2 separate regions of the Homo sapiens genome follow, and region 2 is linked to region 1. A link means that fine-mapping ties the variant in region 1 to the expression of a gene that starts in the linked region. Tissue or cell type: esophagus muscle. Region 1 holds a variant in brackets; the other region holds the start of a gene. All regions are shown on one strand. Distances are from middle to middle.

Region 1 (5,153 bases):
GGCTGAGGCGGGAGGATGGCTTGAGCCCAGGAGGAGAAGATTGCAGTGAGCCGTGATTGTGCAAAAACTTATGTTCAAGCTTTTAGAGGCACAGTTGATGAAACAAGGCCCACATATTTGAACTAACTAGAGACTATTAGGAAGTACCATTTTGTCAAGAAGACAAGTCTAGTATGGTTTTAGACAAAGGCTTGAATGTACTGCAATGCTTGGCAAAGGCCTAATGAAAGAAGATGATAGCTGATCTCGAAGGGTGGGTACGTTGCATTTAGATTGGCACAGAGTAAGGCATTGCATATGGGCTGTGCTATATAAGTGAAGGCATAGAAACAGGACTGACTATGGCAAGGAATCTGAAGATGAGTAAACGAATGCTGGGTTTGGTTATAAGCTGGAGACTGCTCAGGGAGAGTATTGGTTGACTAACTTGAGAACCAGAATTGGAAGGCATGGGAATTTATAGTTTTGAGAAAGTAAAGACAAGTAAAAGTCCAAATACAATATTAGTGGATTTACATAGTCAAGGATGGGAGGTAGACAGCTATTGTTACATGGACATTATAAGAAGAAGCATTTTATAAACCCATAAACTATATTAAATAAAGTAAAAGTGTGGTGGAAAATGCTGCTGAATATTATTGGAGGAAGGTCACTTGGCACCCTTCCGCTGAGCATTTTTGATAGAGGAGGTTGTTAGAAATCCAGTGGCAAGGGATTACTGGAGAAAAGGGTATAAACGATAAGGACAGGTCTAAGAGCATGAGGAATATGACTGATAAAGGAAGAAGAGAAATGGGACAGGACTGAAAGACTCAAAGTTTTTGAAAGAGACGACATGGTGAATCTACACACATATGAGGACAAAATTGGCTATTATGAGTAAAAGTCTGAAGATGCTGGAGAGAAGAAGGATGGGATCCTAGAAATTGCCCTAAGAGTTGAGGCTGAGATCCGGAGCTTGAGCAGCGGGGCTGGCAGGCATTGAAAATGAGAGACATGCTCTCTTTCTGACACTGGAGGAAGTTTCAAGGGGAACTATGGGATGCTGAGTAGATAAATCAGTTACCTTCAAATTTCCCTATTACATTAGAAAAAAAATAAAAGTGCCTGAGAGAAAGAGATTGGGGCTTTAAAAAGACAGCTGGGCACAGTGGCTCACACCTGTAATCCCAGAATTTTGGGAGGCCAAGGCAGGCAGACCACTTGAGGATCACTTGAGGTCAGGAGTTCCAGACCAGCCTGGCCAACATGGTAAAACACAATCTCTACTAAAAAAAAAAAAAAATTAGCTGGATGTGGTGGCGCACACCTGTAATCCCAGCTACTCAGGAGGCTGAGGCAAGACAGTCGCTTGAACCCAGGTGGCAGAGGTTGCAGTGAGCTAAGATCGTACCACTGCACTCCAGCCTGGGCAACAGAGTGACTCTGTCACACATACACACAAAAAAAAAGGCGGAATAATTTAGAGACTATATCAGGGGTTAATAAAAAGTAAATGGGAGCATTGCTGACAGTCGTAAAGGTCAAATGTAAATTAGTATTAAGGCGATAAATCAAGGGAGAGCCATGGGCAGGCTAATGATTAGGTGCCTCTTTAAACAGATATTCTTTAAATATTCATTCAGTTTTTTTAAATGGAAATAAAGTTGGCCCCAGAATGTAACAAGATCAATTTATATTTTACCAATTATTTTAAAAGTTTTATTTGGAAATCCGGATTTTAGTACCACTTAAAAGTTGGTCCTGAGGATGATAGAAGAGGGATGGTACCCTAGGAGTTGCCCCAGGAATTGAAAGAAGATGAACTCTGTAGCTTCAGCATGATGGGGGCTCAGCCATCCTGACGTCTAGCTAAATTTGTACAGTTGTGTGGCTTCCTCTAAAGATACTTTGTTACCCAGAAGCATAAAAAGCCAAGTTCATGTATTTGGTAGCTATGTGAAGGTGATCAGGCAGTAATATATACTGATAGGGATTCATTTTGCTCCTCCAGCATAGTAAACCTGCTGTCTTTTGTATGAAAAAGAATTAAATGAAACCAAAATGAGAATATTATAATCTGACATTGTGCTGAATTTATGTTGAGGAAATAGGACAATTATACTTAAAAAATGAGGTTTGTAAAGGGTCCTAGGTGGAAATAAGGACCTTATAATGGAAGTAAATAATGGAAATAACGGAAGCCTTATTTCTATACTTCACTCAAAGTGGTAAAACCTAATATACCAATAGACTGTGATGTTAAATATGTATATTATAATACTGAGAGTAGCCACTAAGAGAACTATACAAGTGATATACTCAAAAATACTAAATAAATCAAAATAGTTTTTTTTTTTTTTTTTAAGTCCAAGTAACCCACAAGAAAGCAAGGGGCCAGCAGGGGAGTGATAGGTTGGAAGTGGGGAGGTAGTCAGAGAGATGAGAAGTTGAGAATAAACAGAAAACAGGTAACAAAATGGCAGGCTTAAATCCTAAAATACCAAGACTTATTCTAAATGTAAAGTTGATCTCAATACACCAATTAAAAGACAGAAATTGGCAGAGTGGATAAAAAACCTAAGCTAAATGTATGCTGTCCCTCAGAAACTTCCTTCAAACATGACATTGGTAGATGGAACCTAAAAGGATGGAAAAGTTATACCATGCAAACATTGATCAGGAAAAAAAAAGTAGTATGCGTGTATGTGTGTGTGTGTGTGT[A/G]TATATGAAGGACATTACATAATGATAAATGGATCAGTCCACAAGACAACATATTAATCCCAAATGTGTGCACCAAACAACAGTGCTTCAAAATACATGAAGCAAAAACTGATAGAGGTGAAAGAAGAAATAGACAAATCCATAATTTTAACTATAACATAAGCTATAGTTATACCCGACACTCAGCAATTGATAGAACTACTGGACAAAAAATAAGCAAAGATATAGATGAATTAAACAACAGGATCTAATAGACATTTATGGAATGCCCCACCCAGTGACAGCAGAACATACATTATTTTTAAGAGCCTATATAACATTCACCAAAGTAGGCTATTATGAGTCATAAAGCAAACCTCAACAAAAGTTTTTAATGAAATAATGCAGAATATATTACTTGACTGTGCTGGAATTAAACTAGAAGTCAATAACAGAAAGATAACAGTAAAATCTCCAAAAACTTGGAAATTAACATACTTCTACGTAATCAGTGGGTCAGAGAGGAAGTGTCAACAGAAAAGAAATATATACAATTGATAATAAAAATACAACATTTCCTATTAAGAGAATGACAAGAAGCCACAGACTGGGAGAAAAAAATTTGCAAAACATATATCTGTTAAAGGACTTGGGTCCAAAACATACAAATAACTCTTAAAACTTACAACAAGAAAACAACCCAATCATACTGGATTAGGATAGACTGCAAATCCAGTGATTGGTAACTGATATGGTTTGGATTTGTGTCCCTGCCCAAATCACATGTCGAATTGTAATCCCCACTGTTGGAGGAGGGGCCTAATGGGAGGTGATTGGATCAAGGAGGGATTCCACCCTTACTGTTCTCATAATAATGAGTTCTCATGAGTCCTGGTTGTTTGAACATGTGTCGCATCTCCCCTTTCTCTCTCTTCCTCCTGCTCCAGCTGTGTGGGACGTGCCTGCTTTGCCTTCGCCTTCCACCATGATCGTAAGTTTTCTGAGACCCCCTCAGCCATGTTTCCTGTAGAGCCTGTGGAGTTGTGAGTCAATTAAACCTCTTTTCTTCATAAATTACCCAGTTTCAGGTATTCCTTTGTAGCAATGTGATAACAGCCTAATAAAGGTGACCTTATAAGGAAAAAGAGACATAGCAACACAGACGTAGACCCAGACCCAAAATTGGTGAAATCTGAATGAACTCTGTGGTTTGTACCAATGTCATTTTCATGATTTTAATATCGTACAATAGTTACAGTAGATGTTACAATTGGGGGAAACATCCCTGTACATTTATTTTACAACTTCCTGTGAGTCTATACTTAATTGAAATTAGATGTTTTTAAAAAGAATTAAAGGTAATGTAATGGCATGTGATGCAAAAAATGGGCACATGAAATATCCAGAGCATTCAACCAGATGGCAGCTAAAAATGTGGACCATCTGCCTTCATGGAACTTTGTATTTCGGACATCTTTTCATCAGCAAGACCATGCCATTTAAATGTTTTCCCAGAAGTGATGCTGAGCTATGTTCAGTGGCCACATGGCTCTCTAGAATCAGTAACAATGAATAAGGATGGACAGCCGGGAGTAAAGATGCTCTCCAGGAAATCATCTTAGGACTGGGTAACCCCACTACACCCCTGGGATTCAGTCAACCTTGGAAATCACTGGAATCCTTAATATAAACTACAAACAATCCAGCATTCTCTGTTTGGCTAAAGATACATTTCAAAGTTTTCTTTAAGAAAAAAAAGCAATATATTAAAACGCTTTGTTTGAATATATGTATATTTGCTGGATCAATAGTTCTTACAGCCATATTACTAAAATTAAGGGCTATGGCATAATAAGAATTACTATAATTCTAAACCCATTAACAGTTTATAGCTTATCCATTTCTTATACTATCCCTGTGAGGAATAATTATATCAAGCTTTATTTGTTTACACCAAACAGGAAAAAATAGATGTATTTATTCATATTTCCTCCATTGGATTAGCCAAGTCTACTAGGGAGCAAAAATAGTAAATTCACATGCCTCCTTTTTTTATGGTAGTAATTGAAAAAGTTATGGATATGATCCCATTTTCTGAAATGTTTAAAAATGAGTGTATAAAATGATCTTATTTTCAGAACTTAAGTCATTATGTGTATTGTTTATAGGGAGTTATATTACTTTTCCAGATTAATAGGCTGCCATCGATAATGAAGAACAAATAAATCCTGCCTTGTGAAATGCTGCCATTTTAAAATTTGCCTGAGGAAAGATTCATTATTGGAGGATTCTTTGCTTTATACATAAATCGCTTTAAACAGCAAAGTCTCCTAGCATTTAAAAATAGTCCATATATAAAAATTCTCTCAATCCACAATCATGTCAGTTGTGTAAAATGAGATATATCTGGTCTGATACCTCAGTTTATGGAAATTCCTCTTGAAATGTCAGTCATTACTCACATCAGTGCT
Region 2 (5,153 bases), 86 kb after region 1:
TCTTCCCTGCTGGATCACAAACTGCATGAGAGCAGCGCTTGTATCTTTTTTTTTTTTTTTTTTTTTTTTTGGAGACGGAATCCCACTCTGTTGCCAGGCAGGAGTACTGTGGCGTGATCTCAGCTCACTGCAACCTCCGCCTTCCTGGTTCAAGTGATTCTTCTGCCTCAGCCTCCCGAGTAGCTGGGATTACAGGCACGCGCCATCACGCCAGGCTAATTTTTGTATTTTTAGTAGAGATGGGGTTTCACCATGCTGGCCAGGCTGGTCTTGATCTCCTGACCTCGTGATCCACCCGCCTCGGCCTCCCAAAGTGCTGGGATTACAGGCATGGGCCACTGTGCCTAGCCATAGCTTATTATTTTATCTTGATCTCCCCAGTGCCTAGCACAAAGCCTGACATCTACTACACGTGGCATGAACTGATCATCATGTAGGCCAAAGTAGTCTGACTTCTTTCTTTATAGGACTTTTTTGTTGTTGTTTTTTAAGTATTCTCGGGAGTTAGGAGGCTTAGGGCTGTGTCTTTGAAATGTAGATAGTGTTCTTCTTCATTTGAACTTGCAGATCAACACCCATCCTAGCCTATGTAGGATATTTAGGAAGGAGTACTGAGTGCATTCTCCTCATCAGGGCAGGAAAGCAGCCTTGTGGAAAAAAGAAAATCATGAGGGCAAATTCATGTTTTGTTTCTCTTTGTGACATTATGTCAAATGTACTCTTTTTGTCTCACAGTGAGATGATCATGTTCTCAGCCCTATTAAGCCCAATGCCCCTTTTTTATTATAAATATTTTGAAATGCCCCCTTTTCCGTCCCAAAATGGAATCATAGAAATTACAACCTACCTACACGTATAATCTAGAAAATCAATGTGAGCCCTAACAATATCATAGAGAAATAAGAATAATTTATAACAAAATAATTTAAATATTTGAGCACAGCCACACCAGAAGACAAAATGAAACAGACACTTGCACCCATGCCTAGAATCACTACGAAGGTGACATTCTAACAGACTGTTGTGTCAGTGACTTAAATGTTTGTTACACTGGTTGATGACAGCAATGTAAATTTCTCAAATGGTACACATTTTAGAATGTTAATTTTCAAACAAATTTTCTCAATTTACCCTGGAAAATATAGTTTATATTAAAATTTGTGCAAAATATACTTGCTGTTTACAAGTGAAAGTGAGTCAGGTTCTAGGCCCTGATAGTTGCTCTTTACCTACCCTGGTGTCTGAGGAACACTCCAGAAGTGTATGGAATGCAGGACAGGTTTTGATTGTTCTCGCCAGGGCATTGCTCGCCATCCAGCATCCCTGGCTGCCATCACTCAGTGCCACTGTGACAACCCAAAGTGTCCCCACAGATTCCTCCAACTCTACTTAGGGAGTGCTGTCTCCTGTGGAGAATCATTGCTCTGAGATTCCACCAAAAGATATAAATCAGACCAAAGGAAAAGCCAAAGTTTTTAAGCATGGTATCTAGACAAGGCAACTCACATGACAATAAGACACAAAACTTTCTCACTCAAGATAGCAGGTTTGGTTTGGTTTGATTTTTAACTCAAGTTTGATAGTGTGACCAACATCATGTTAGGCCTTGTGAGAGACAGAAGTTGGGAAGAAACACCCCCCACCCCCCTCCACACACACACGGACACACACGGTCCCTGCCCTCAAGGACTTCCAGTCTAGTAAGTAAGTGGCAACAGCTACAGTACAATCCAGGTCAGCGAAAAATGGAGCCTAAAACAGAGCAAAGAAAGACGCAGGTACGTATAAGAAGTGGGGCCCCTGGGCCTCACAGTGGGCACTTTACCCCGGGTTGGATTTCATGGAGGCCCCTCCGGCCGTGTTGTCCGCAGGGTACGATTTTATGAAGGCTCTGAGTTGGTGGCTGACTCTGGCGTCACCATAGACACCACAATGCGTGGAGGCCGACTTGGCGTTTTCTGCTTCTCTCAAGAAAACATCATCTGGTCCAACCTCAAGTATCGCTGCAATGGTAATGTGCATTCTCGTTACTGTTCAACATTGTTACTAGAATTAGTCAAACACTGCCACCTTATTTTTATACCGCACTTCCCCCCCAAAAGCCCAACGCTCATACCACATAGTCATTAAAACCTGATAGTCCCTGTGTACCAGAAGTAAAAAGCAGATCACATTTATCCTATTTTATCCATGTGGAAATTAAGACCCATAGAATTTAACTGCATGGTTTAGGGTTTGGGGTTCAGTGAGAAATCCAGTCAGATTTAATTTACAGGAAGCCTTTATTTTCATGTGGTTAAAACATAATCACAGATGCAAAATCCATTCTGCCTGCTGATTTTCTGCACGGCCGGGAAGGAGCACTCCTGGGCTTTAAGCCAACGGTTTGCAAAGCAGCCTGCAGGAGAAAATGGCGGCGAGGGCCTGCGGGGCGTCCTGGGCGGGCTAACAGCGCCCCCTACAGGACGCCTGAGCCGCGGGCGGGGGTCCGGGGTCCGGGGTGGAAGGAGCCTCGCTAACCTCCCTGTGCCCATTCCTATTGCAGACACCATCCCTGAGGACTTCCAAGAGTTTCAAACCCAGAATTTCGACCGCTTCGATAATTAAACCAAGGAAGCAATCTGTAACTGCTTTTCGGAACACTAAAACCATATATATTTTAACTTCAATTTTCTTTAGCTTTTACCAACCCAAATATATCAAAACGTTTTATGTGAATGTGGCAATAAAGGAGAAGAGATCATTTTTAAAAACCGTGTTGCTCAGACATTGCTCTCACGTGGCTCAGGCTTTGAGGTGCCCGTTCTCGGAGGGATCCCTGTTAACTTGCAGGGTGGTAGTTTCTTCTCAGACCCGGTGGCCGATAAGATGAGCCTATGCGTGAATCACAAGGCCCAGGCCAGAGGTCTCAGCTGGGGTCCCCCCAGTTTGCTCCATACAAAACGCCTAACCGTTCCATGCTCACCTTGGCAGCCTCCTTATTTCGGGTAAGGGGTCTCAGAAACACGTGTTTGGGGTGGCACCTTCCCTAGGGAGGCGTTTTTCTGACCTAGTCCTGGGACAGATTTGCCCAATTCTTTCTGATGCTGTCATCCCATCCCACACCTTCCACAGACTTCTATTCTGGCCCCTTCAACGTAATTCTTAAGCTTATTTATATATTTGGCTCCCCCTAGTGGACTGTAAGCATATTGACAATAAAGGATCATGTCATTACAATCAATATCCCCACAGTACCTGGAATGTAGTAAATAGCCAGTAAATGTTTACTGAATTAATAAACGAAGAATGAATGAATGAATGCCTCTTAAAGGACAGTAGAGTGTACATGATCATAAAAGTCCTCCTCAACTCAAAAAGTCACAACATATCCTCTATTTGTGGTACCAGTAGCTGGATGTACAGCACAGAAACTTGCCTAATTTGTACACTAGCCTTTCTTGTATTTCAATTGTAAATCAAGATCCAAGCAAATTTTTATAAATTCTCTAGAAATTTTGTTTCAAAGAATATTGCTGTGCGGTTATATATTTTCTTATTCCAGAATTCCTAGAGATATATTAAATCATGTATGAAGAAAAAAACACCACAGTTTTATCATGACTTTAACAGTGAGAAAATACAATGGTGCATGCATGAGATCTGGAGGATTTCTGGACATCCTCCTCTCATGTACAGCCTGGAGATGTGTGTGGCCTTGTAATCCAGGACATCTGATCTCCTACATCAAAAACTCCAATGGGGCCAGGTGTGGTGGCACTTGCCTGTGGTCCCAAGCACTTTGGGAGGCCAAGGCAGGCAGATCACTTGAGGCCAGGAGTTCAAGACCAGCCTGGCCAACGTGGCGAAACCCATCTCTACTAAAAATACAAAAATTAGCCAGGTGTGGTGCCACTTGCCTATAGTCCCAGCTATTTGGGAGGTTGAAGTGGGAGAATCACTTGAGCTGGGGAGGCAGAGGCTGCAGTGAGCAGAGATTGCACCACTGTACTCCAGCCTGGGCAATGAGAGTGAGGCTGGTGAAAGGAGGCAGCAACCCACACCATGCCCACCCCTGGGGCAGCCTCCCTGTTGTCGGCTGTGCAAGCCCAAGAACGCAGTATGTCCACAGGAAACAGACTCTCTTGGTTAAATCTTTTGTGTCTATAACTATTTTAGAAACCATGGGCCCACAGGAGATCCAGAACATAATTCCATCCCTTAGGGAGCTTATTACATTTTTGGGAAGACAAAACTTGTTATTTATGCAAAACAAGAAACAAAGACGCATGTAGAACCAGCAGTGTGCTGAAGCCAACTCCTACCAGCTCATAAGAGCCAACTATTCAAGTTTTAGGAATATTGTGAGCCAGTTAAACGGTTGGTAGTTTGAAATTGGCCATGGTGGGAGTATTTACACAGAAACTGGCAAACACTACAAATCAGGGCTCCAGAGAACTGGTTGTTAAATATTTATCAGCACACAAGTGATTATTCTACCTTGTCCTATTCCTAGTTGGCCCTCCTTATATTTTTGAAGCTGATGTAGAAAACTTGAGGCTTTCAGAAAATTTCTTGCATAAGAAATGAAGTAAGAAAAGTGAAAATGGGTGGGGTGCTATGGCTCACACCTGTAATCCTAGCACTTTGGGAGGCCTAGGTGGGAGGATCGCTTGAGGTCAGGAGTTTGGGACCAGTCTGGCCAACATGGTAAAACCCCATCTCTACTAAAAATACAAAAATTAGGCCAGGTGCAGTGGCTCCTGCCTATACTCCCAGCTCCTCAGGTGGCTGAAGCACAAGAATCTCTTGAACCCGGGAGGCGGAGGTTGCAGTGAGCTGAGATCGTGCCACTGCACTCCAGCCTGGGCGACAGAGCAAGACGTGTCTCCAAAAACAAAAACAAAAAAAAAAAAAAGTGAAAATCAGGAAGCACTTGAGAGAAGCTAGCCAGTTGCAGACTGACGGGATGAGCTAGCAGGTGTGGTATGCTCTCCCCCAGGTAACTCCCTGGGCTTCTTGGATACTTGTTATACTCAACCTTAGCACAATGACTCAAATTCCTATTACAGTTCCATTAGGTTAGTAAGAGCCTCATTTGAATCTTACACCTCTAGGACTGAGTGGCCATCAGTCTCTCACCAACTAGTATGAATTCATTCCAATGCCCATTC

The links. PIP is the estimated chance that this variant, and not a neighbour inherited with it, causes the effect.
Region 2: it holds the start of THBS4-AS1, and the variant in region 1 is fine-mapped to the expression of THBS4-AS1 in esophagus muscle (GTEx, PIP 0.95).

The regions. Positions count from the first base shown.
Region 1 is chr5:79,994,703-79,999,855 of GRCh38, forward strand. It overlaps a transcript of THBS4 not described here. Among named protein-coding and RNA genes, the nearest start is that of MTX3, 6.0 kb to the left of the region's middle. The variant A/G (reference allele first, on the strand shown) is at 2,704.
Region 2 is chr5:80,080,535-80,085,687 of GRCh38, forward strand. THBS4-AS1 (THBS4 antisense RNA 1) reads right to left here and starts at 3,131. Exons shown (of 8, transcript NR_109930.1): 1 at 2,966-3,131; 2 at 1,826-2,003. It overlaps THBS4 (thrombospondin 4), which reads left to right. Exons shown (of 22, transcript NM_003248.6): 21 at 1,872-2,011; 22 at 2,546-2,753. The coding sequence ends at 2,607. RefSeq lists silencers at 2,440-2,529, 3,645-3,859.